2 separate regions of the Homo sapiens genome follow, and region 1 is linked to region 2. Evidence: fine-mapped expression QTL. A gene starts in region 2. The other region holds a variant in brackets. All regions are shown on one strand. Distances are from middle to middle.

Evidence for each region. PIP is the estimated chance that this variant, and not a neighbour inherited with it, causes the effect.
Region 1: its variant is fine-mapped to the expression of FKBP1B in whole blood (INTERVAL, PIP 0.95).

Annotation. Positions count from the first base shown.
Region 1 is chr2:24,342,016-24,352,416 of GRCh38, forward strand. The region is part of intron 1 of ITSN2 (intersectin 2); the gene reads right to left. Among named protein-coding and RNA genes, the nearest start is that of ITSN2, 13 kb to the right of the region's middle. The variant TC/T (reference allele first, on the strand shown) is at 5,711.
Region 2 is chr2:24,044,223-24,054,623 of GRCh38, forward strand. It overlaps FKBP1B (FKBP prolyl isomerase 1B), which reads left to right and starts at 5,519. Exons shown (of 4, transcript NM_004116.5): 1 at 5,519-5,664; 2 at 9,680-9,727. The coding sequence starts at 5,628. It overlaps WDCP (WD repeat and coiled coil containing), which reads right to left and starts at 3,169. Exons shown (of 4, transcript NM_025203.3): 1 at 3,092-3,169. It also overlaps the pseudogene RNU6-370P. RefSeq lists silencers at 5,381-5,680, 9,617-9,808.

The DNA of each region.
Region 1 (10,401 bases), 300 kb after region 2:
AGGGCCAGAAAAAGAAGTAGTAGACAGCTCTAGAACACGAAGTTAGAACCTGGGACAGATATTTCTGTCTCTAAGAATGAAGTTCAGGAAGGGGAGTAAGAATGAACAAAGGCATACATAAGTTTAGAAGCAGAAGAAAGAGCGATTGAGAAGGTACAGATTTTCTTCTACCATTTTTTTTTCTTTTAGAGATATATAATCTTTTTGAGACAGTCAATGTTGCCAAGGCTGGAGTGCAGTGGCATAATCACGGTGCACTGCAGCCTCGACCTCCCAGGCTCACGTGATTCTCCCACCTCAGCTTTTCAAGCGGCTGGGACCACAAGAGCACGCTGCCAAGCCCGGCTAATTTTTAAAATTTCTTATAGAGGTGCAGTCTCCCTATGTTGCCCAGGCTGGTCTCAAACTCCTAAGCTCAAGTGATCCTCCCACCTCAGCCTCCCAATGCAAGCTTTCTTTGTCTCTCTTCTTTAGGCTCAGACAACAGTCCAAAGGGCAGAGCTAAGGACAGACTCCTTGATCTCGTAGGCCCTCAAGTGTCTAAGCACAAATTTCTCTCCTCTTCAAGCCATAAAAGAGAAAGACACATGCAAATCAGTTCCCATGACTCAACCAGATATGTGCATTTCAGCTTGCATTCAAATCAGCTTAGGCCCTACACATCAAAACATTTGTTAAAATGAATGAATGTGAAGGAAAACATTCTAGGCAGAGGTTACTCTGCAAAAGCAGAGTAACTAGTGTGGTCTGGAAAAATAGAAGATTACTTACTCACATGAAATAGTGAAGGGCTGGCCTGGCACAGTGGCTCATGCCTGTAATCCTAGCACTTGGGAGGCCGAGGCAAGTGGATCACCTTGAGCTCAGGAGTTCAAGACCAGCCTGGGCAACACAGTGAAACCCCTCTCTACCAAAAATAAAAAAAATCAGCCAGGCGAGGTGGCATGTGCCTGTGGTCCCAAGTACTCAGGAGGCTGAGGAGGGAGGACTGCTTGAGTCTGTAAGATGGGGGTTGCAGTGAGTCAAGATCGTGCCACTGTACTCCAGCCTGAGTAACAGAGTGAGACCCCATCTCAAAAAAAAAAAAAAAAGTGAAAGGCTAACAACAATGCAAGGAACCATAACAATAGATACAAAAATAAGTACAATGTTAATGCCTAGCTGATACAAATGTCAATTAGCATAAGATCCTTAAAACAACCTGAAAAATTAAACATTAAAAAATATATATATAATAGAAAGTGAAAGTCCATTACCAAGAAAACAATCATTAGCAGTTTTGAATAGATTGTTCCAGATATTTCCTATTTATACACTAGCAAATACCACTTTTACACAAATGAAGTCATACTTCATTGTTCTGCTTTTTTCATGTTACCAATTTTTCACAGTGAATAAGTAATCTTCTATTTTTCCAGACCACACTAGTTACTCTGCTTTTGCTTGTACTGTAACCACTGCCTAGAATGTTTCCCTTCATGTTCATTTTAACAAATGTTACAATTAATGCTACAATAAACATTCTTCATACATGTGTGTAAATATAGGTCTGTGGACAGATATGTGCTTCCAAAGATAAATTCTAGAAGTGGAAGTAGCAGGTTAGAGAGCATGAACATTCTAATTTTAATAGATAATACCAAACAGCCTAAATTGGACTTTACCTATAAAGTCTCTCAATACAGGCTGATAGCATAATACCAATAAGATGCGGTTTAGAGACACAACCCTCTAACTCTGACTTAATTCAAAAGACATTTTAGAGTACCTATACCAGTAATATACTCCATTTCCTCTAAGCAATTTTCCACAAACATTATTTCCCTTAACTAAGCTTTCCTCTCCAAATAAATGTAATTTATAAGCACATGCTCCACAAAAATCTCAAACATGAAAAACTTACTAAGCGGACTCCACAGACAGGGGAGGAGGGGTGAACCTGAAGACCCAGTCCTGATTACCACAGTTAACAGTTTGGTATTTGTTTTTCCAGATTTATTTTATGCATATATAAACAAACATGTTATTTTTCAAACCCAAATAAAATTATGCTAGCCAATTAATATTCTATTATTTTCATTACACATATTACAGATATCCTTCCATAGCAATATATAATACATCAATCATATCCTTTTAAATAGGTGTACAGCATTTTATTATATGGATATACCAGAAATTAAGCTATCTTCCACTGGTGGACATTAAGACGGTTTCCAGTTTTTTGCCTAACAAACCATACTACTTTGAACATCCTCATCCTCATATATATACTGAGTATTTAGGTAGGACAATACTTCTAGAAGTAGAATTAATGGGTATCAAGTTGCTTTCCAAAATTTATTAATAGTACCATTTTATATTCCCATTGGTGTGTAAACATACTTGTTTCTGTATAATCTTGCCAATATTTGGTATGAACAATTATTTTATGTATTGCCAACCTGAGAGGCAAATTTTTTCTAAATTTTCATTTCTCTGATCATTAGGGAACTCAGCATTTTTCATATATCTATCATGTATATTTCTCCTATGAATTGCCTATTCATTTATTTTGCCCATTTTCTATAGCATGCTGTTCAATGGAAATGCAACACAAACTACATAATGTAATTTTAAATGTTCTAGTAGCCACATTTTAAAAAGTAAAATTAGGCCAGGTGCAGTGGCTCACGCCTGTAATCCCAGCACTTTGGGAAGCTGAGGCAGGTGGATCACCTGAGGTCAGGAGTTCAAGACCAGCCTGTCCAACATGGTAAAACTCCATCTCTACTAAAAATATAAAAATTAGCTGGGCGTGGTGGCGGGCACCTGTAATCTCAGCTACGCAGGAAGCTAAGGCAGGACAATCGCTTGAATCTGAGAGGCAGAGGTTGCAGTGAGCCCAGATTGCGCCAGTGCATTCCAGCCTGGATAATAGAGTGAGACTACATTTCAAAAAAATAAATAAAAAGTAAAAATAAACGGGTAAAATCTGTATTAATATATTTTAATTAGTTCATATCTAAATATTATCACCTCAACATATGATCAGTATAAAAATTCTTATGACATTTTACATTTTTGTACTGTCTTCAAACTCCAGCTTTTACACTTATTATACACTTAGAGTACTTCTCAATATAGAACTAGCCACATTTCAAGTGCTGATTAACCACATATTAAAGGCTACTGTATGGGATAGTGTGGTTCTATAGGATCTTTATATGTGAGAGCTCAGATTTCCCCCATTTCAGCCTTTTTTCCCCTATGTTTTTATTTTTACTGTACAAATAATTTAAAAGCAAAGGCTTCAAATAATGTACAATTATGAAGAGCAAAACATGACAGTCATTCTTTATTACCTCACTCACAGTACCATCTCCAAGATAACCATATCAGCCACTGAAGTACATTCTCACAGCCTATTTTTACATATTATATAAACGTATATATACCCATATGTATTTTACATTGTCTAAACCTTCTTCTAAGATAATACCCATCAGAAATACCACATTCGATTCTACATAATATTCAACAGGATGGGTAGATCAAAATTTATTTTTTAATAGACACATAATACATTAATACTCTCATTGTAAAAACTTAAAACATACAAATAAAGCCAATTCTTTTGACCATCCTTCCCCATCAGTCTCTGAAAATACCCAGTGCTGTTAACAACATGACCTGTATCCACGGATCTTTTTCTATGCATTACAATAATAGATATTATATTAATAGTAAGCTTTTACCTGTAACATATGCTATAAATGCTTTTAATCTAGCTTGTTTGTCTTTTAATTTTAGGGCATCTTTCATTATACCAATTTAAATTTGTTGGTCTTTCTTTTATGACTAGTGAGTGTCTTGTCATACAAAGAAAGGCCTGTCTCATACCAGGTCTTATACCAGAAAATTGTCCTATATTTTATTCTAGTACCTCTATGATTTAAGGGTTTTATGTATATATTTGATCTACGTGGATTTTATTTTGGAGTGAAGAAATGGATATGAGTCCAAATTGTTTGCGCTACCCTTCTACCACCACCACTTGCGATGTCTAGCAGTGTCTACCCTTCTTATCTCTATGACCTCTAAGACTGTATCCCAGCCCACAAAGATGGAAAGGCAGAAGGCTACGTAGAGTATAGCACAGAAAGGAGGGTGGGGGATTAACTGTAGAGAGGAAAAACTTGACAAACACTACTTTAGCCAGCTGGTCAAGGTCAACATCAACAGTCATAAAGCATGCAGACAGTATGTGCTCTTGATAAGATGAAAGTATCATTTTGCCTTTGTCATCTTCCTCCTAAAAATTCACTAACTTAGTCCAAGCATGACAAATCATCAAATTCCAATATACTTACAATATATTTATATATCTCCTACAATATCTGTCCAGTAACCTCTCAAAACTGTCAAAGTCATCAAAAACAAGGAAAGTCTAAGGAACTGTCACAACTAAGAGGAGCCTAAGGAGACATGACAGCTAAATGTAATGTGGTGACCTGGAACAGAACAAGGATATTAAATAAAAACTAAGGAAACTGAAATAATGCATAGACTTCAGTTAATCATAATACAATCAGTATTGTTCATTATTCCTAACATATGTACCATACTGATATAAGATATTAATAATAGTGGAAACTATGTGTGGGGTACATGAAGGGATATATGGGAACTCTGTTCTACTCGCTCCATTTTTCTGTAAATTTAAAACTGTTTAAAAAATAAGCCTATCAATTTTATAAAAAGCAAATACCTCAGAAGTAGAAGAGTATAGGTAAATATGTGCCTCTAATTTTGACCACATTCATTAAAAACAAAATACCCACTTGATCCACATGGAAATTTATCTTTTTTTTTTTTTTTTTTTTTTGAGATGGAGTCTCGCTCTGTCACCTAGGCTGGAGTGCAGTGGCATGATCTCGGCTCACTGCGACCTCCACCTCCCGGTTTCAAGTGATTCTCCTACCTCAGCCTCCCGAGTAGCTGCTACTACAGGCACCCGCCACCACGCCCAGCTAATTTTTTTTGTACTAGTAGAGACAGGGTTTCACCATATTGGCCAGGCTGGTCTTGAACTCCTGACCTTGTGATCTGCCGACCTCAGCCTCCCAAAGTGCTAGGATTACAGGCGTGAGCCACCGCAACCAGCAGAAATTTATCTTAAGAAAATATCTAAAGAACAAAAATAGATTGCAAGGATGCATAGTACAGTTTTACCAATATTAGAAAAAATACAAATAAGCTAATTTATCCAAAAATAGAGAAAGAAGCAAAAAATTAAAGTTACATTCACTCAGAATATTATTTACCTATTACAAATGACAATTTCAAGGCTATAGGAGATAGGATATGTTTATTATATAATGTAATTAAAAAAAAAATACAAATTGTAGGCCAGGCACTGGGGCTCACGCCCGTAATCCCAGCCCTTTGGGAGGCTGAAGCAGGTGGATCACCTGAGGTCGGGAGTTCGAGACCAGCCTGACCAACATGGAGAAACCCCGTCCCTGCTAAAAATACAAAATTAGCCATGCGTGGTGGCACATGCCTGTAATCCCAGCTACTCGGTAGGCTGAGGCAGGAAAATCGCTTGAACCCAGAAGGCGTAGGTTGCGGTGAGCTGAGATCGCACCATTGCACTCCACCCTGAGCAATAAGAGCGAAATGTCATCTCAAAAAAAAAATTGTAGAATATGAATGTAAATTTGGGTTT[TC/T]TTTTTTTTTTAATCTTACATGAACCACATATACCAAAATGTTAAACAATTAAAAACAGATAAGGCTAAACACGGTGGCTAATGTTTGTAATCCTAGCGCTTTTGGGAGGCCAACGCGGGAGAATCATTCGAGGCTGGGAGTTCAAGACCAGCCTAGGAACATAGTGAGACCCCATCTCTACCAATAATTTTAAAATTAGCTGGGTGTGATGGGTGGTGTGCATCTATAGTCCTAGCTACTCAGGAAACTGAGGTGGGAGGATCACTTGAACCCAAGAGTTCGAGATTACAGTGAGCTATGAACATGAGACTGAACTCCAGCTGGACAACAGTGAGACCCTATATCTATAAAAATAAATAAAAATTAAAAGTGAAAAACAAATACTAAGATCTCAGTAAAGATCTTACTCTTCAGTAAAGAGAAGGCTATGGTAAACTTACAACTAGTTTTTCAAATACTATGATTTTTTTTTTTTTTTTTTTTTTTGCCCAAGCTGGAGTGCAGTGGCGCGATATCAGCTCACTGCAACCTCCACCTTCTGGGTTCAAGCGATTCTCCTGCCTCAGCCTCCCAAGTAGCTGGGATTACAGGTGCCTGCCACCATGCCCAACTAATTTTTTGTACTTTTTGTAGAGACATTTTAGTAGAGACAAAGTTTCACCATGTTGGCCAGGCTGGTCTCGAACTCCTGACCTCAAGTGATCCACCCGCCTCAGCTTCCCAAAGTGCTAGGATTACAGGCATGAGCCACAGCACCCGGCAGCCCTTGTCTATTTTTCAGTCTATTATAAACAATAATAAATAACAAGTCTCTTTTACTAAAAGCATTTAACTGAAATTACCATTTCATCTCAAATCCAGTCATGCTACATCCAGTGCTAAAAACTACAGAGGAAAAGTACACTACAACAAACACACCCTATTGCAGGGGCAGACAGAGCCTGGCATCTAAGCTGATGCCATACCCCATAAGGGCCTGCATGGGAATAACTTTTATCTGTGATTGGTAGTTTCACATCTCAACCAAAAGGCTAACAGAATAAAAGAGTAAAGAAATTCAAAGTAGCAGCTAACGGGCAGAAAAGCATTCGTCCATTTTCCTATGCTATCAAGCCAATTTGAAGTTTTTTAAAAAATTACCAATATACTTCAATTACTACAAATAAAGTATACTATCGCTGCAAAAAAAATAGCACTTTTGAATATAATATCAAAAGAATCATCCAAGAAAGCAAACATAAAATAATAATAAATGTGGGCCAGTTGCAGTGGCTCACCCCTGTAATCCCAGCACTGCTGGAGGCCAAGGCAGGATGACAGCTTGAGCTCAGGAGTTTGAGACCAGTCTGAGCAACATAGTGAGATTCTGTCTCTACAACAACAATAATCATCATCATCATCATCATTATCATCATCATCAATATGCAATGAGAATTTTTTTAAAGCAAACTCCAAAATCTAACAGGGAAAAAAATTACCAGGAAAAAATAAAATAGAGATATTGTAACATGGAATTTGTTACACTAAAACCAATAGCATACCCAGAAAACATCCTTCACTCACAACACCACCTAACCAAAGCAAGGTCTCACTTCCCCCAAATATTTCAAACCACAAATTTACAAATTCTTTTCATCAACCTGAATTATTTAATTTGAGTGGTCATAGACTTTTTTATTTTAATCTGATAAAACCTATGGTTGTTCTCCCTGGAAAAACACAAATGTACAAAATATGGCACATAATTCTGAAGGTTTCACACATCCAAAGCCAACTGTAGACTTTCAGACAGTTCATGTGTTCCATAGCTTAAATGTTTAATGATAACATACACAAACCCTCATTCTTAAAAAAAGATAATGAAGTGGGAAAGACCCTTCCAATTATGTAATCCACTCATTCCCAAACTATTTTTTTAAAGGAATAAAAGAATGGCTACTCCATAGGCCGAGCAGCAGCCTCATTCCCAAACTATTCTAACCATCACCCACCTAAGTAAGACAAGAGATCCAGCCTACCTACCTCCTCCCATTTTCTAGTGCAAAAATAACTCCCTAAGGAAGAATTGTAGCAATGTAACAAGTACACAAGAGCAAAACGGTCCACAAAAATTTAAATGTAACATTAATTCTACAATTGTATTAATCCAAAAATAACAGCAACTGGAACCACAGCCAATTTGAGACAACACCACTGATGTAGTGAAAATATCTTCTGAGTGTGGGCATGCATAGTACTAATTTTCTAGTGCTGCCAAAGCATGGTATAGCTGACAGATTTCTTAGAAGAAAACTAAACTAGAGCCCTCGGTAAGTTCTAGAAACCAGCTAATTTTAGTTGTGAATACTAAATTTCAGTAATCCTTAGTAACTCAGATTATTGGTAGGTAGCCTATTCTAATACATAAATATCAGAGGTTATGGGAATGGAATAACAATAGCCCCTGAGAACTGAGGAGACGGCTTGTATTTCTGGTTCATGATCCATTAGGAAAAGCTTCTGATCTAGTGAGTGTCTTGGACCATACTGAGGAAGCATTAATCTAAGCCAATAATTTTCAACAATTTTTCCACTGTGATTCTGAGTAATGGCTCACCAATAGTATAAAATTAACCTCCTAAACTGGAACCCACATACATTGCTGGTGGGAATATAAAATAGATCAACTGCTTTGGAAAACAATTCAGAATTTCCTCAAAATGTTAAACATAGGTTACCATGTTAAGTCAGCAATTCCACCCCTCAGTATGAACCCAAGATAAATAAAAACATGTCCCAAAACCTGTACACAAATGCTCACAGCAGCATTATTCACAATAGCCAAAAAGTAGAAGCAACCGAGTGGAAGCAAATGTCCATCAACTACAGATGGATGAATGAATAAACAATAAACAAAATGTGGTATATCCATATAATCCATAAAATATTATTTGGCCATAAAAAGGAATGAAGTACTGATCTATGCTATAACATTGATGAATCTTGAAAACACTATGGTAAGTAAAAGAAGTGAGTCACAAAAGACCATATATTGTATAATTCCATTTATATGAAATGTCTAGGATAGGCAATTTCATAGACACAGAAAGTAGACTAGTGGCTACCTAGAGCTAGCGGTGTTGAGGGAGATGGAAAGTGACTGCCATTGGGTATAGGAGGTTCTTTTAAGAACGACGAAAATGTTCTAAAATTAGATAGTGATACTGGTTGCACAAGTCTGTGAATATACTAAAAAACACTGAACTGTAAACTTTAAAAGGGTGAATTTTACAATATGTATCTCAATAAAGCTGTTTTTAAAAAATCTATTCACGTGACATACAAGGTGTTTTAGGCTCTATCTTCCGCCTACCCTACCAGGTATTTCAACCTCCCCACCTCCACCTCCACTTGATCTTATTCCCATGCCTCCTCTCTTTGCACCTGTGGAACTACCTGCCTTCTGAGTGACACTTCTACTAATAATAGCTTCCTTTGCCACAGTCCCATTTTGTCTTGTATTATCTCATTAAACTACATACCAGCTAGTATTGTTACTTTTGTTTTCACGCCTGCCCCGCTTCTATTAGACTGTGAGCTCCTGAATGGCTCTTTAACTTCATATACCTAGTGCCCAGCAGTCACTCACATGGTAGGCACTAAAATATTCTTTAATAAGCACAGGTTAGCATTCTTTCAACTGCACAGAAGACAAACCCAGCAACTTGAGTTTGAATCCCAGTGCAAGTACTTCCTAGCTTTGTGGACTTGCACATGACATAGCTTCAATTTCCTAACCAAATAATGTGGATACAGTAGACCCCCTTATCTGCAGTTTCACTTTCTGAAGTTTCAGTTACCTGTGGTCAACCATGGTCTCAAAATACAAAATGGATAATTCCAGAAATAAACAATTCATAAATTTTTAATTGTGCACCATCCTGAGTAGCATGGTAAAATCCTGCATTGCCCGCATCTGTCCCAACCAGGATGAAAACCATCCCTTTGTCCAGGGTGTATCCACTGTGTCTATGCTGCCTGCCCATTAGTCACTTAGTAGCTGTCTCAGTTATCAGACCGACTGTCACAGTATCACAGTGCTTGTGTTCAAGTAACCCTTATTTTACTTAATAATGACCCCAAAGTGCAAGAGTAGTGAGGCTGGCAATTCGGATATGCCAAGGAGAAGCCACTTCCTTCAAGTGAAAAGGTGAAAGTTCTCAACTTAATATAGAAGGGAAAAAATTGTATGCTGAGGTTGCTAAGATCTACAGTAAGAACAAGTCTTATATCTGTGAAATTGTTAACAGTATATTGTTATAATTGTTCAATTTTATTATTATTAATCTCTTACTGTGCCTAATTTATAAATTAAACTTTATCATAGGTATGTATATATAGGAAAAAACATAGTGTATATAGGTTTCTGTACCATCCATGGTTTCAAGCAACCACTAGGGGTTTTGGAATGTATTCCTTGCAGACAAGCAAAGTACTACTGTAATCGTACCTAAATGCCAGGTTATTTTAAGGCTTAGATGTCATGTCTGGAAAACATCTGGCACATAGAAGGTGTCCATAAATTATGATTATTACAACAATTATTTCAACATTATTTTAATTATAATCACTAATCAACTTTTAGTTGTAATCACAATCACTAATCACTAATCTAATTTGTTTTACTGAAACAAATTAGAGTTGTGCCAA
Region 2 (10,401 bases):
AAGGATTTGGGAATAAGAGAAAAACAAACATAAGTTTACTGAGGTTTTTTTTTGGGGGGGGCGTGGGGGCACAGTCTTGCTCCGTTACCCAGGCTGGAGTGCAGTGGCATGATCTGGGCTCACTGCAACCTCTGCTTCCTGGGTTCAAGTGATTCTTGTGCCTCAGCCTCCCAAGGAACTGGGATAGGGGCCCACCACCATGCCCAGCTAATTTTTATATTTTTAGTAGAGACTGGGTTTCACCATGTTGGCCAGGCTGGTCTTGAACTCCTGACCTCAAGTGATCCTCCTGCCTTGGCCTCCCAAAGTGCTAGGATTACAGGCGTGAGCCACTGCATGGGCCAGTTTACTGAGGTTTTTAGAAGAATGAATTTTAATATTGTCATCTTCGGTAACAAGAAGAAATGTGGCACATTTTTCTCAAAAACGCAGTGATAATTACAAAAATCTGCTCCATTCCTTTCTACTCCTGTGTTAGCCCAGGTTCTGACTTCTCCCTTTTTATTAGGGTAAAACAAGGAGAGGTCCCCTTGATACCAGTCTCTACTTTCCAAATGAGCCTGCATACTATGTGTTGTTGGGCAGAATTATCTTTAAAAAAAAAAAAAAAAAAAAAAAAGCACAGCGGTGATCATTTTGCTCTTCTGCATAAACACCCTTGATGAATCCCCACATCTACAGTATATAAAAAGCCTCAAAATGTCTTAACAAGGCAATTAAAACCTTATATTATCAGATATTGATATATCTTTCTAAGTTTATTCTCTGATCATAAAGGGCATGCTGAGGAATTTGGAATCTTGGGGGAACCAGCATATATTCAAGTAACAATATGCAGAATGGACCTGAGAAGGAAGAAAGTTGACAAGTAATTTGAATGCCACAAAGTGAAAATGAAGCAAGTTTGCAACTATTTCAGTAGAGAAAGAAGGCCATATTCAAGAGATGCTTTTAAGGCAGATGGAATAGACAGTGATATCGATAGGATATAAGTAGTGAGGAGGAAAAAAGAATTAAGGATAACACCCAGATTTTTAGCTTGAGAAACTGCTGAACCATTAACCAGAGCATGTTTCAAAGGCAAGGAAGGCAGGGCAGGCTGGGTGTGGTGCCTCATGCCTGTAATCCCAGCACTTTGGGAGGCTGAGGCAGGTGGATCATCTGAGGTCAGGAGTTCGACACCACCCTGGCCAACATGGTGAAACCCTGTCTCTACTAAAAATACAATATTAGCTGGGCGTGGTGGTGTGTGCCTGTAGTTCCAGCTACTTGGGAGGCTGCAGCAGGAGAATCGCTTGAACCCGGCTGGCGGAGGTTGCAGTGAGCCGAGTTTGCGCCACTGCACTCCAGCCTGGGTGACAGAGCAAGACTCCATCTCAAAAAAAAAAAAAAAAAAAAGAGAGAGAGAGAGGAAGGAAGGAAGGAAGGAAGGAAGGGGGAGGGGGAGGGAAGGAAGAAAGGAAAGGAAGGGCAGGCACAGTGGCTAACACCTGTAATCCCAGCACTTTGGGAGGCTGAGGTGGGAGGATCACTTGATGCCAGTATTTCAAGACCAGCCTAGGCAACACAGGGAGACCCCAATTCTACAGAAAAATTTTTAAAAATGAGGTGGGTGCTCACTTTGGCAGCACATATACTAAGACTGAAATGATACAGAGCGTAGCATGGCCCCTGCACAGGGATGACTTGCAAATTTGTGAAGCGTTCCATAAAAAAGGAAAATAAAAAATAATAAAAATAAAAATAAAAATTAGCTGGGTGCAGCGTCCCACACCTGCAGTCCTAGTTACTATGGAGGCTGAGAGGATTTGAGCTCAGGAGTTCAAGGTTACAGTAAGCTATGATCACACCACTGCATTCCAGCCTGGGTGACAGAGTGAGACCCTGTTGGGGAGGTGGGGGTGGGGGCAGTAGGGGAGGAACGTGTGTAGTATGTGACAAATTGAAATTAACATGTGCTTCATGTAAGATGTCTACATGGTACCAATGTACCTTAGGCAGTCAGAGGTAAGGATTTGGAAATCACTGACATAGGGTTAATCATTAAAGTCAAGGTAGTGGAGAACCTCACTGTATAAGATCAGAGGGCCAGGAGGACCAAGGTTTAAATGCTCTTCAGGCATTCCCCAACGCTACTGATTTTGCCTGAAACTAATTGTATACCTATTGTTTCACAATCTCCAGAGTATAAGTTTTTTGGAGAACATGAAATCAAGAACCCTGGGTGTTTTAGGAGGGAAAAGACCACTGTATTAGTTCAGGTCTCCGGAGAGGTGGTCAGAAAACTAAGAGCCGGTGCTCAGTATATAACCATTTAATTCTGTTTTTCATCTTCTTTAAAGACAACTCATGACGAGAATCAAGGGATTCAGGTGAACTGGCATTTCCAGCAGGTTTAAACAAAAGTACATCCCTCCCCCAACTTGTTTTCCAAGTTTATTGTATTTCCACTATAAAATGATTTCAAGTTCTTTACACTTATTTGGAAACAAAAATCATACACAAGAAAAAAATTAAGAAGAGTTAACGAAAAAACATTCATCCAAAGAAAATTATGACTAATCCCTCTAGACTCTTCTATGCATAGTTTGGCTGTCAAACTTTTTCAGTTATACTGTGCAACTTTGTATCACGGTTTTCATCTAACATTATATATTAGCATTTCCCTATGTTATTTAAAAGTTTAATAAATTAGTTTTAGAGGCCACTTCACATACACTCAGTGAAGTGACATAATGTACTGAACTGCTCCTAGCTGTACCCAACTTTATCCCGCTACCCGCTATAAATAAAGCTCGGACCGAGGTCTTAAGGCTTAAAGCATTTCCTGACTTTGGATGACTTCCTTGGGACATATTCCCAGGAGTGTTATTCACGAGTCACGGTCATAATCCCTCATTTACACCCACCCCTAGCTCGATCCTCATCCCGCGACCCCTCACACGCGGCCCGCCCCATTCTCCTCATCCTCTCTGCACGCCTGAATCTCCTCCTTCCCGCCCCCTACCCACCAAGAGCCGATCCACTTCCCTCCTGACCCCCTACAGCCTCCCCACACCCGCCAGGCCCGGCAGCAGTGGAGATGAAATACCTTAGGTCTCACTGCCTCACAAAAACACCAATCTCTCTGTGGCCGCCCAACATCACGCCGCCGCACATAAGAAGTTCTGGGCAGCCACCGGAAGCACCGGCCCTCAGTCCTCTGATAGGTGGGCGGTGATATCGGTCCTCTGATAGGTGGGTGGTCCTCTGATAGGATAGGCACGCTCCGAGATGGCCCCGTCTATTGGCTTTTGAATATGCACATTAGCAGAGGGTTCGTCCCACTGGCCAATAAGCTCTGGCTCTGCCGCACGGATCGCTGGGAGTGGTAGTCCCCGTAAAACCACCGACCGCAAGCCCGCCACATTTTCCCTCCCTTAAGCACTTGAGCTCTTTCCCCACTTCTCGTCGGTTCTCTTGTCTAAGGAGTCCAGGAGCCCTAGGATCACCACGGCTTTTTAACCTTCTTTAAAATCTGATAAAATCTCTCAGGAAAATGTTCTTATCTGTACACAAAATACTGTGCATTGAGCTGAAGCCGCTGCATGGGCCTGTCCCAGCTACAAATCCCTGTTCTACCCCGACCCTAAGCGTGCCTGCTCTGGCCGCAGCCTATGGATTTAGTGCGTCCCTTAGGCTTCTTCAGACCTATGAGGAATTCCAGGTCCTGACCCTCACAGTACAGTCGACAATCATCTTTCTTTAACAACACAGCCAGAACACCTTCAGGGATGCAGACAACCTCATCTGGGACCTAAGCATCCGGGAGAGTGGGGATGAGGAAATGGAGGAAGAACACCCTTGGGGCTCATTCTGGACCAGTTTGCCAGGCTTTTCTCCCCATGCCTATCTTCCAGTGCCACTCAGGAGAATCATATCTTCACATCAGTTTTTATGTTTTTCTTTTTCTTTTCTTTTCTTTTTTTAAAAATAAAGATGGCATGCCTGTAATCCCAGCACTTTGGGAGGCTGAGGCGGGCGGATAACCTGAGGTCGGGAGTTCGAGACCAGCCTGGCCAACATGGTGAAACCCTGTCTCTACTAAAAATTTAAAAATTAGCCGAACGCTGGTGTCTCACGCCTGTAATCCCAGCTACTTGGGAGACTGAGGCACGAGAATCGCTTGAACCTGGGAGGCGGAGGTTGCAGTGAGCCGAGATTGTGCCACTGCACTCCATCCTGGCGACAGAGTGAAGATTCTGTCTCAAAAAAAAAAAAAAAAAAAAGGAGAGAGAGAGAGACGGGATCTCGCTATGTTACCCAGGCTGGTCTTGAACTTCTAGGCTCAAGCAATCCTCCTGCCTCGGTCTCCTACAGTGTTGAGATTACAGGTGTGAGCCATTGTTCCAAAAATTGATATACTTGGCCTCACATCAATTTTTGGAACAATGCAGGTAATAATGAGGGGGAAAAAATTTTAAAAGTCCCAATTACCCTTTAAACAAATATTACCTCCTCCAAAAAATATTTTTCTAGATTCCTGAATGTATTTTTTGGTGGAGGAGGAACTCAAAGTAGAATTCATTTACATATTCATTCATTCATTCCACAGCACTAATCACTCCATGCAGTAACTGTGTGTCCCCGTCCCTCTCAGACTTAGTACCTGGAAGACAGCCAACCTGTCTTAATTCTATTGGTATCCCCAGGGCGCATTTCTTTGCCTTGAAAATTGAGTACCCAATAAATGTGCGTCGAGCAGAACTACACGAGATGGAGAACAGGGGTTTAGGGGTATGGGGGAGAGTCAGCAATTACTGGTGTCCTCCCTCCCTCCCCCAGCTCTGCTCCTACAGATCCAGGACGCCTAGCGAGGGTAGGAACCTCTTCTGTGCTTCCGCAACGCTCTGAACTGCACGGCACTGAGCGCATCTAATTAAAGTGATGGTTTCATTAGATAGCAACACAGCGAGACCCCGTTTCTACAAAAAATAAAAATAAAAAATAAAAGATTAGCTGGGCGTGGTTGCTCGCGCCTCTAGTCCCAGCTACTTGGGTGGAGGCTGAGGAAGAAGGATCGCTTGAGCCTAAGAGTTCGAGGTTGCTGTGAGCTATGATCGCGCCACTGGACTCCAGCCTGGGCGACAGAGCAAGATCCTCTGTCTAAAATAAAAATAAAAATAAAATGATGGTTTAATCGCCGGCCTTTGCCCCTTCTGCCCCCCACCCCCCACAAGTCTGTAGGACTGGGTTGACTTCCCAGAGCTTACTACAGATTAGATGCTAAATAAATGTCTATTGGACGGATGCGCGAATGAATGGATGGATGGAGGATGTGGTTGTGCTTACCACGCTCCCTGGTCAGTGGGTTAATGTCGTCAGGCGGGGCCAGGCTCGCTAACAGCCGGGCGGGGTCCCTTCCCCCGGGCCCCGCCCCGGCCGACCCCACCTTTCCGCGCGGCTCCGCCCCGCCGCCCCCTTGCCAGTGGCCCCTCCCCGCGCAGGTCCCGACTCCAGCCGCACCTCCTCCGGCTCTGCAGTGGCGGCGAGGAGGCGAGCCGGAGCGACGGCGGGGCTGGGGCCGGAGCCGAGCCGGGGTCGGGCAGCAGCAGGGACCCCCCAGAGGCGGGGCCTGTGGGACCGCTATGGGCGTGGAGATCGAGACCATCTCCCCCGGAGACGGTACCGGGCTCCCTCCGGAGCCAGGGGAGGGGAGGGGTCCCGGGGCGGAGCCCGGAGGGCGGGGGTCTGATTCGGAGGTGGCGTGGAGGGTGCTGAAGGGTCGGGGGGCTGGATGGGGAAGGCAGGCGGAGACGCCGGACGGGATTCTTGGGGGTCTAGGAGACCATCCTCCGCCATCCTCTTCCGCGCTCACCTAGGGGAATGTAGGCGGCAGCTCGGAGGCGGGGGTCTGCGGCCCGGAGGCGGGGGTCTGCGGCCCGCCACCGCCCCGGGCTTCTCCTGTCGCGGCTGCAGTCGTTCGGTTATCCGCTGCTGCTGATACCCCAGCCTGGGTTTCGGCTTCGCTTTCCCTGCCCTACTCGGCGAGCTCTGGAAAGCAGGACCTGCTCTCGGATACCCGCTGCTCGGGGACCTCCTCCTAGCGCGTCCCCCGCCGGGCCTCCCCTCGGTCGCTTCCCTGCGGGCCGGGCTGTGAGCGGCTGTGGGGACAGACCCAGGCTGGGGAAGGGGGAAGCGCTCCCTTGCCCGCTTCCGGATCTCGCTTTATCCTGCCGCCGCTTTCAGACTCCCTGGCCACCCTGTCCACTCCCATGGCCTCCACATTGAAGCTTCTAAGCCCAGCCCTGCGACCTACGGCCGAACCTCTCCCTGGACGTCCCAGGGTGCTCCCTGGTCAGCAAGTCCAAAACAGAACTCTCGCTTCCCACCTTCTCTCCTAAGTGATCCTCTTTATCCCCCTTCCGTGTCTCACTTTCCCAAGTCCTTGTATTACTGGGTCTGGGTGTGCAAGGAATAGCCATTTCTTTATTTCTTGAAATTTAATTAATACCAAAGCCCCCATTGTCTGCAGGGTTTGATGGGCAAACTTCATATCAGATATTATTAATATGAACAGCTCCCCTCCCCAGGAAATTGGATAACTTCTTGGCTCCAGGCCATCTTCCTTGTCCAATCCCAGCCACTACTTCAGATATCCCCTGGAGTACAGGCTTCTTTGCCCACGCAGGAAACATTGCTGCTGGGTCCCAGAAAGCATCTCCCTGAGGCCTTTTCATCCCTCAGCAGCCCCTGAGCTAATCTCCCCATCTTCAGTCTCTCCTCCCTGCTTTCAATCTCGTCCCCAATCTCATATTCACTCCCTTTCTATATCATAGCCTGAAGACTCTTCTTAAAATGCAGTGGCTCACGCCTGTAATCCCAGCACTTTGGGAGGCTGAGGCGGGCGGATCACAAGGTCAGGAGTTCGAGACCAGCCTGACCAACATGTTGAAACCCCGTCTCTACTAAAAATACAAAAATTAGCTGGGCATGGTGGTACGCACCTGTAATCCCAGCTACTCGGGAGGCTGGGGCAGGAGAATCACTTGACCCTGGGAGCCAGAGGTTGCAGTGAGCTGAGATTGTGCCATTGCACTCCAGCCTGGGTGACAGAGCAAGACTCTATCTCAAAAAAAAAAAAGAAAAAAAATGCATGTTTGACTATGCCCCTCCCTCAGGCAGAAGATGTTTTAATGATTCTTCCCTCTCCCCCAGGAGGGGCCTTTGGTGCTATGGTCTATTCTCATCTTCCACACTAGAGCTTCATCTCTCACCACCTGTCCTAAGCCCACCACTAACTTTTTCCTCCAGCTTTCCCAAGCTGCCTGCAAGTTGTCAAACACACCACTCGTTCAGCAAATATTTATTGAACGTGTGTGCTAGGCCCTAAGGTGACACAGTTGAAACAGACAGGGTTCCCGCTATTGCTGGACTGAGGGCCTTTGAACATGTTACATGTTGTTCCCTCTTCCCAGATGGTGTTTTTTCACTTCCTCTGGCAAACTCTTACTTGTCTTTCAAGACCTGGCTTCACCATTCTCTCCTCTATGATGTTTTCCTTGACTTCTGTGGTCAGTTAGCTGCTCCCTCCTCCAGGATCCCATAGAGTCCTCTAAATATCGGCTCTGTGGTTAGGCTTCCTTAGGCTTTGTATCCAGCCCCGTAGCTTTAAATTCCAGCCAAATTTATACCTCCAGTGCAGACTCTTCATCTGCCTACTTGCAATATAAACTCAGATGTCTAATAGGCATCTCAAGATTGCCACCCGCACAAATCTGTTCCTCCCGTCTTCCCTATCTCAGGAAATAGTTGCACTATTCATCCAGTTGCCCAAACAGAAAACCCAAGCATCGTTCTTGTTGTCTCCTTTGTCCTCATCCTGGACCCCATTTCCAGTCTGATTGCATGACCTGTCAGCTCCGCTTCGAAAATATGTCTCCAATCTTTCACTCTCTTCTCTGCTGCCACCACCTTAAATCAAGCTATCATTGATTTCTTGTCTGGATTATTGCAACAGACGCCTAACCGTCCATCCTACACATAGCAGCCAGAGTGATGTTATAAAATCTTAATTCAGATTATGTCATTCTCTGGCTTAAAACCCTCCAGTGGTTTCCTATTGCACTTAGTATTAAATCCGGCTCTTCAAGCCCTGCATGATCCATGTCCTTCCCACCTCTCTCCTCCCTCCCTTCTTTCCAGCACCTAGCCTCCTTGCTCACTGCAAATGTGTTGATTCTGTGCACTTGTTACTCCTTTCCCAAGTGCTATTTCCCAGTATTTTGCTCATCCTTCAAGTCCCAGCTCCAGGGGGCACCTTCTCCAAGAGGCCATCCTGGACCACTCTGTCTGAAATGGCCTGTCCCACTGCATCTCCCTTTAATACATCATTGTGTGTATTTTCTTTAGAGTATTCATCATAATCCATAATCATTTTGTATATTTAAGTATTGTCTCTGTCCATTAGAATATAAACTCCAGGGCGGGTTTGGTGGCTCATGCCTATAATCTCAGCACTTTGGGAGGTTGAGGTGGGAGAATCTCTTGAGCTCAGGAGTTCAAGGCCAACCTGGACAACATGTTAAGACCCTGTCTCTACAAATTTTTTTTAAAAAAATTAGCTGGGCATGGCAGCATGCACTTGCAGTACTAGCTACTCAGAAGGCAGAGGAAGAAAGATTGCTTGAGCCCAGGAAAGGTCAAGGCTGCACAGAGCCGAGATCATGCTGTTGCACTCCAGCCTGGGTGACACACTGAGACCCCTACTCTTAAAAAAAAAAAGTAAACTCTAAAAGAACAGGGATAGAGATCTTGTTTGTAGTGTTCACTGCTGTATCCCTGTGATCAGGCACAGGCTTGGCACACCATAGGTACTCAGTAAATATTTGTGGTTTTGTTTTGTTTTGTTTTGTCTGTTTGTTTATTGTGACAGGGTCTTGCTCTGTCACCCAGGGTAGAGTGCAGTAGCATGAACACAGCTCACTGCAGCCTTGACCTCCTGGGCTCAAACAATCCTTCCACTTCAGCTTCTTCAGTAGCTGGGACTATAGGTATGCGGCACCACACCCAGCTAATTGAAAAGATTTTTTTTTTTTTTTTTTTTTTTTAGAGATGGGGTCTCCCTATGTTACCCAGGGTGATCTAGAACTCCTGAGCTCAAGTGATCCTCCCACCTCAGCCTCCCAAAGTGCTGAGATTACAGATGTGAGCCACCATGCCTGGCCTCTCAGCAAATATTTGTAAATTATTGTGTTTATTCATCTTTGATGGATGGATTATAATCTGCATTGTAATCTGGTATTTGTGTGTCTGTTTCCCTACCTTCCTCATGAGTTCATACATTGCTCTGCATGTCTGAAGTCTGGTCCAGGCCTGGCACATAGGAGGCCAACTGTAAATGTCTGTGGAATGGATGATGTGAAGTAAAAGGGGCAATCAAAGAAAGTGGGGGTGGGGTGGTGGGAAAGCCCAGGAGACAGCAGAATTGAGAAAATTGAGGGGGTAAAGTAAATCCAGGCCAGAGAGGTGACGTGATTCATTCTGGCTCGTACAGGGCCCAGAGCCAGAACTAGGGCCACAGGCATCTCCATGGCATGGAGGGGAATGCAGGCTGGAGCTCTTGGTCAGGATCATACTTAATGTCCCAGGTGTTTTTCCAATATCCTACTCCTTCATCTGCCCTCATGTCTCCCTGCAGGAAGGACATTCCCCAAGAAGGGCCAAACGTGTGTGGTGCACTACACAGGTAAGTCTCACCCCCTCAGCCCCCACCCAGTCCTTCCCCTCCCAAGGCAGGGCTGTCCTCTGAGCTTCTCTCCAGAGGTGCCTGCCTCTGGATCAGGGCTAAAGCCCAAGGCAGCAGGGTCTCCCTGTGACCAGCCATCCTCTACTCCTCCCAGCCAGTCTAGTGGGAATGATAAAGGAGGCTTGGAAGGCCAACTCTTTCCCTCTTCTACCAGCAAGGGCCATCCATGGTGCCAGCTTCTAGGTGAGTCAAACACCTTCAGTCCCCTTCCTTCTGTTGCAGGTATGGTGGAGCCCCTGTCCCTGCTGGGTCTGTCTGATATTTGGAAATCCCTCCTAGAGCTCCCCGCAGACTTTCTCTCCATCCTGCAGTATCATTAGAGAAGAAGAGGAGGGGAGAGGACAGACAAGTCACCCAGAGGCTCCGATGCCATTTGAGGGGTGGGGTGATGGCAGTGCTTTTCTCTGGGTACTGAGGGAGCCCAGAGCGGGACTGATCCCAGTTGGATGCTCTTTATCTGCAGGCGAGGTAGAGTGAGTTCTTCAGGACTGCTGGCAGGAAGATCATGAGCAGGTGTTTGTTCCAAGGGAGGTGAGCACCCTGCCTTGTGACCTGCTTCCTAAAGTGGCAAACTCGATGACAGCCACTTAGCAGACAGCAAGCCCAGGTTAATT